Linked DNA regions of Homo sapiens: region 1 is linked to region 2. Evidence: fine-mapped expression QTL. A gene starts in region 2. The other region holds a variant in brackets. All regions are shown on one strand. Distances are between the middles of the regions.

Evidence for each region. PIP is the estimated chance that this variant, and not a neighbour inherited with it, causes the effect.
Region 1: its variant is the best candidate, but not a certain one, in a credible set for the expression of SBSPON in esophagus mucosa (GTEx, PIP 0.62).

What each region holds. Positions count from the first base shown.
Region 1 is chr8:73,164,823-73,167,735 of GRCh38, forward strand. The region is part of intron 2 of LOC107986891 (a long non-coding RNA gene); the gene reads right to left. Among named protein-coding and RNA genes, the nearest start is that of SBSPON, 73 kb to the left of the region's middle. The variant C/T (reference allele first, on the strand shown) is at 1,258.
Region 2 is chr8:73,091,473-73,094,385 of GRCh38, forward strand. It overlaps SBSPON (somatomedin B and thrombospondin type 1 domain containing), which reads right to left and starts at 1,700. Exons shown (of 5, transcript NM_153225.4): 1 at 1,382-1,700. The coding sequence starts at 1,595.

The DNA.
Region 1 (2,913 bases), 73 kb after region 2:
GAATCTCCTTTTAGTAAAGAGAGAGCACAGGCCTCAGGCTCAGTCTTTGGCAAGCAGCAGTTACTAGCTAGAATTTAATAACATTGTTTTATTTTCATTGTGTTTACTTTGCATTTATTTTCTACTTATGGCAAGTAGTGTAGCATTCCTTGTGTAATAAGATACAAAATTACCTTTTAAGTATATTTATCTAATTTTAAAATGAGTTAATGTAAAGAAAATATTAATATAAAAGTACAGGTAGTAGTTGGAAGGTAAACATGTGACTTTAATGACAATTGCCTGACATTTAGGAAACACTAGTCTATTCTAAAGACTTCATCTTAGAGATAGGCAAACCAGAACTCTGCAAGTTAGGTGGCTTTGCCCAAGATCACACAGTTCCTAGTGATGGAGACAGTCCATTGTCCGTTTCATAGTGATGGAGTCCATTGTCCGTTTCAGCACAGCACATTGCTGTGACTTACATCGCAAGAGTACTAAGAGCCAACCCTACAATGAGAAACACAGCTCAGAGTGGTACCAGCTATTATTTACACATGCACACACATGAAAATCAAGCAACTCGCAGCAAAGTCAAGCCTCACTGTTGGTTTAGGTCTTCAATACCGAAACAGTCTTATTTCTTCTTTTTTCACTTCCAGAGTGGCCAATGGACTGGACAATGAGTCATTCCTATGTAGCTTATATAAACAAATTCAAACCATTCTTTTTAAAAAGCACTCATAGCCAAGTGTGGTGGTGCACGCCTGCAGGCCCAGCCACTTGAGAGGCCAAGGTGGGAGGATTGCTTGAGGCCAGGAGTTTGAGACCAGCCAGGGCAACATAGCAAGACTTCCGTCTCCAAAAAATAAAAATGAAACAATTTCTGTCACCAAATTATGAAAATTCAAAAATAAAAATAAAAAAATTTTTAAAAAATGTTTAAGTAAAAAGCACTCACAATCACAGAATTCTGGAAGCTTGGAAGAATAGCTAATTCCATCTTGTAAACAGTTTGAGAAATAGTTGAGGGAAGCAAAGCTGGGCTTTTACATGTTCCAGGGCACTGGCCCTGCATCCCAGCTCTTGTGCTTACAATTCCTGGAGCTGACAGTTCAAATATTTTCCTTTTTCTCTAATGTTCTTGCTCTCTTGATGCCATTTTCTACAAATCTAAAGATTTTATTTGGTCTTCAGTGAAAAATTACAACCACTGGGGTGAGTGCTAATGGGATGTCTGATCTAGCCCTTTTGCTACTGTCAGGGACTTCAACT[C/T]GTAAACTCACTAGCAAGAGGAGAATCCACCCTGCTTAGGAGGGTGCCAGAGAAGGTCATTTTACAACTTTCAGACACTCATTCTAGCTGGCAAGACAGTTTTCCTCTTGCTAATTGAATCCGCCCAGCCAAGAGTGCATGCACGTCTCTCTTCGTTCCCTTCTCCGTGGACAGCAATGGCCTCCTGTTTTTGTAAAATAAACTTTACGTGTTTGAAGATTATTCCCGAACTTCCCCTTGACTTTTTCTCTCCAAAATGGCCTCTTCCTAGTTTTTCCATCTTCATGCAAAAATAACATCTACCAATCTACTTTTTCATCTTTGTGGCTTACCTCTGAGTTTTCATCTTACTTTTTCCTGTCACTCATAAGTTGTTGAGTCCAGAACAGAGCACAGTATTTTGAGGGCGTGTGTAGTCAGTGCAAAAATGCCCAACATCCCTGCTTCCTTGGAAGGTCCAAATGCCTTAGAGCCTGCGGGTATCTCCTGGACTCTCCAGGCCCAGGCAAATCTGTTCGGAGGCCCGTGGAGTCCTAGCATGTCTCTGATTATTCGTGTTCCATCCATACACATTTTAGGTCAGAAACGGTGGAGGAGGAACCTCAGAGACAGACCCTCTAACGTCTTAAATAGAAAGTCCAGTTTAGCACTCAGGTCACGTGGGGGCCTAGAGCAGTGGTCCCCAACGTTTTTGGCACCAGGGACTGGTTTCATGGAAGACAATTTTTCTACAGACACAGGGGAGATTGTTTCAGGATGAAACTGTTCCATCTCAGATCATCAGGCATTAGATTCTCATAAGGAGCACACAACCTAGATCCCTCACATGTGCAGTTCACAATACAGTTCATGCTCCTGTGGGAATCTAATGCCACTGCTGATCTGACAAGAGGTGGAGTTCAGGCAGTAATGCTCACTCACCCACTGCTCACCTGCTGTGTGGCCCAGTTCCTAACAGGCCACACACAGACCAGTACCAGTCCATGGCCTGGGGGTTAGTGACCCCTGATCTAGAGGACGACTAAAAGCTTAGCCAGGTCCTAAAGCCTCCACAGAAGAACAAACTAACTAATTAATTATTAGGGGAAATCAGATATACAGATCACTCTGGACCTTGCCTAACTCTTCCCAAAGTCATCCAATCATCCAAAGCTGCTGTGCAGAATGGCTTTAGGGGTACTGAGAGATCACAGAGAGACGCCCCTCTCCCCAGCATTATGGAAGAAATTGTATGCTGTGTCTAAATTTCAATTTCCTTAACACACTTGAGCTCCATTTAGCAATGCTACGTAACACTTGCCCTGCCCACCTGGCAATGGTGTGAGAATGAGTCACATAGGGTGACACTCTGAAAACTGGCAAAACCAATGGAGGACAGAGCGGGGTGGGGGCAGCAGGTCCTAAGAGCAAGCTTTGACACAGTCTGTCTCTGAGCTGACAGAACTCCTCCAGAACCCTGGATGTGTTTCTGTTCACCTGTGGCCTTGGACCTGATGTTTATGTAAGAACTCATGGAGAAGATAAATGTGAACAAGTCATTAAGGAAACTCGTGGTCTGCCGTATTTCAAAGCCATGCCCTCCCTGGCCACCACGGGCCCATGTGTGCATGAACCCACTCCTCAATACCTCCTCAACAACTGTGGTTGCACCAAGCA
Region 2 (2,913 bases):
TCACAGGAATTCCATAATTACCTTTAAAATGTATGCAAGCCCCTCATGAGAGAGAGGCTTTGCTTGAGTTATGCAGGGAAATGAGGCCGACAGTTTAGGATGCTGTGAGGAGGGGCTGGAGTTACCTGGCTCAAGGGCACTGCATTTCCTAAATAGCTGACTCTTCCATCTTACTTTAGTAGTAAAATACTCTGAACTTAGAGCCAGAAAGGGAAAGAAGCTTATCAAAAAGCTTTATCAAAAATAATATCAATATTCACAGGTAAATCATTAGCTTTCAACCAGGGTCAAAAAATCTTAATGCTTTCAACTGTGTTCTTTCAGCATCGGGCCTGGCCACGGGTTGAAGCCCTCTTCAAACAGCACAGAGGCAGGAGGGTGCTCCCCGCCACTGGGTATCCGGTTGCCCAGGGAATGGCATAGCCCCAGAAAATGCTGAGGCTCCCACATGTCGGGATCCTTCAGCTCGAACCCTAATATCTGTGTGGCTTTGGGGATGATGTGATTAACAGGAGCAGGGCGACTTCCACTTCCATGGCTGGCTTCTCTCAGGTACACCTTGTTCCTCAAGGCTGTACTCATCATTTGTTCCTTTATCTTTTAATTCAATTAAACCAGCTTTTATTGAGCCCTTACGGGGACAAGGAACTGTGAGATACTGTGGGAAATTTAAAGTTGAAAAAGACTGACCCTAAAGGAAAACCAGCAAGATTACAACATAATAGGGACCTCGAGATAAAATCCTTGTCATGCTGTACAGAGAAAATTAAATTCCAAGAACATACTGTACACCTCCTAGGAGAAAGAGGCTGTTCTACATTTTGGGGTCCAGAGATGAGGACATCTTCAGATTTTTAAGACCTTGCTCTCCAGAAGAAAGTATTAATACCTTCCCAGAGCACGCCCTTGGCACAAAGTGGGAAGATTACACAATCCTGCCCTCATCACCCCTCACCAGCCCCAAAGATCCCCGAGGGTTGACAGAATGAAGGTGGTGGAGCCTGGCCCAGGGGCATGCCCCTTATCTGTCAGTGCCATCTCTGCCGGCCAGAGGTGGCCCTATCCAGCTGGAGTTTCTGAGTCGGAGATTTCGTCTCTCGGCTCCCTTCCATCCCGCTGGAGAACAGCGGGATCCAGCCCTTCCATCCGGGCTCTGGTCTGTCTTGGGGGTGGGGGGACACTTCGATGTCTAGCAGGGGACTGGGAGACCCTAGGATGAACGGAGCCGGGCGTACCTGGATGGCGGTGGTGGGGATGGGTGGGGATAAAGGGTCTGGAGGACACCTGGCTCAGGGACTGAGGTCCTTGGCACAGCGCCCTGCCCTGTGCCCGTTGGTTGCAGGCTAACGGCCGGCGCCCCACTCTCGGCCTGACCACCCACCTGGGCACGCCCTGTCGTAGTCGAAGCAGCAGTCCCCGGTGAAGCGACAGGCTTGGTCGCAGAAACACGTCCCGTAGACCCTGTCCAGCCTCCAGCCGCGGGCGAAGCAGGCGGGGTCCCGGCCGGGACAGCAGCGCCCGGCCTCGGCGCAGCCGGCCTGGGCCCCGGGCCACAGCCGCGACAGCGCGCACAGCGCCATCCACAGGGTCCTCATGGCCAGGGCTCCGGCGGCGCCTGCGACGCGACAGACCCCCGGGGCAAGCGCTCTGATCCTCGGCTGGCCGCGGCCCGGGAGCTGCCCGAGCGGCCGGCGAGGCACAGCCGGGCCCTGCCCTGCGCCCGGCCCCCGCCCTCCGCGCCGCCCCTCCCCAGCCCTGGCGGCGCGCCCGTCGAGGCCCGGGCGGGTGGCGGGGCTGCCCTGCCCAGGTGGGGAGGGCGCTGCAGTTCCCGGGACGGGCCCGCAATCGACGGTCCGGGCGCCACCCACTCCCCGCTGCCAGCTCGCGCCCCAGCTCCAGCCCGGGGACCTCCGGGGCGCGGGAGCGGAAAAGCAGGTGCTGGCGGGGCGGGGGTCGGGGTGGGGTGCCGGGGCGTAGCCAGGAGCCCGGCGGGGGAGGCCACATTTCCTGGCTCTAAACTGTACTTCTAACGCCTGGGGACACATTAACGAGCGGGCATTTTCACTCTAAAGCCATGAGACCAAGAGCACTCGATGGGCACCAAACGTGTCTCAGCAGCACTCTGCGCGGGCCACCCCGCCTTCGCCCGGGAAAGCTCATTCAAATACAAAGTGGACACCAGCTCGCCCACCCTCTCAGTCCCCGCAGGCCGCAGAGAAGCTAGGAGATAAGTCCAAAGAAGCATCCTTTCTTTCTGCTGCATTTATAATGGGACTCTTCTGCCCCAGGAAAATGCCACTTCGCTTCACGAGGAGGCAATTTGTGAATGGTGGGAAGAATAAATAAAATAACGGGGCTCTGTTTTCTGATAAACCAATTTCTCCCCCTAAAAACTCTGTGTACTGATATTTTAGAACTTTCACTTTAATAAAATGCTTGCCTAACTTTTAATATATATATTTTCTTCTCCCTTTCTCTCCAAATGTGTTACGTTTTCTGCACCACTCTTTTTGTTCACCCAAATTTATGCTGGAATTTTCATTTTATGTTCTTAAATCATTTACCCTAATATGGTTTTTATGTGAAACCAGGAATATAACGTTTTTTGCATCTGCGAACCTAAGAAATCAAATTAATTTCATAGACTTTCTTTCTTTCTCATATAAGGATTTACAGAGGAATTTTCTTTATTCATCAGAGAGAAAAGTTAACAAAAGTAGAAATGAAAAACTTGACTACAAAAGTAGTGAAACAATACGGTAATCAACCATACAAAACACATTGTGAAATGAAGAAGATTTAATACATTATAAGAATTTTATCTTATAAACTCTAACCACAAAGTTTGACCAGTGGAGACTGTAATCTTATTTCATCTTCCAAGAAAAACACACTCTAAAGTCAAAAAGAAGT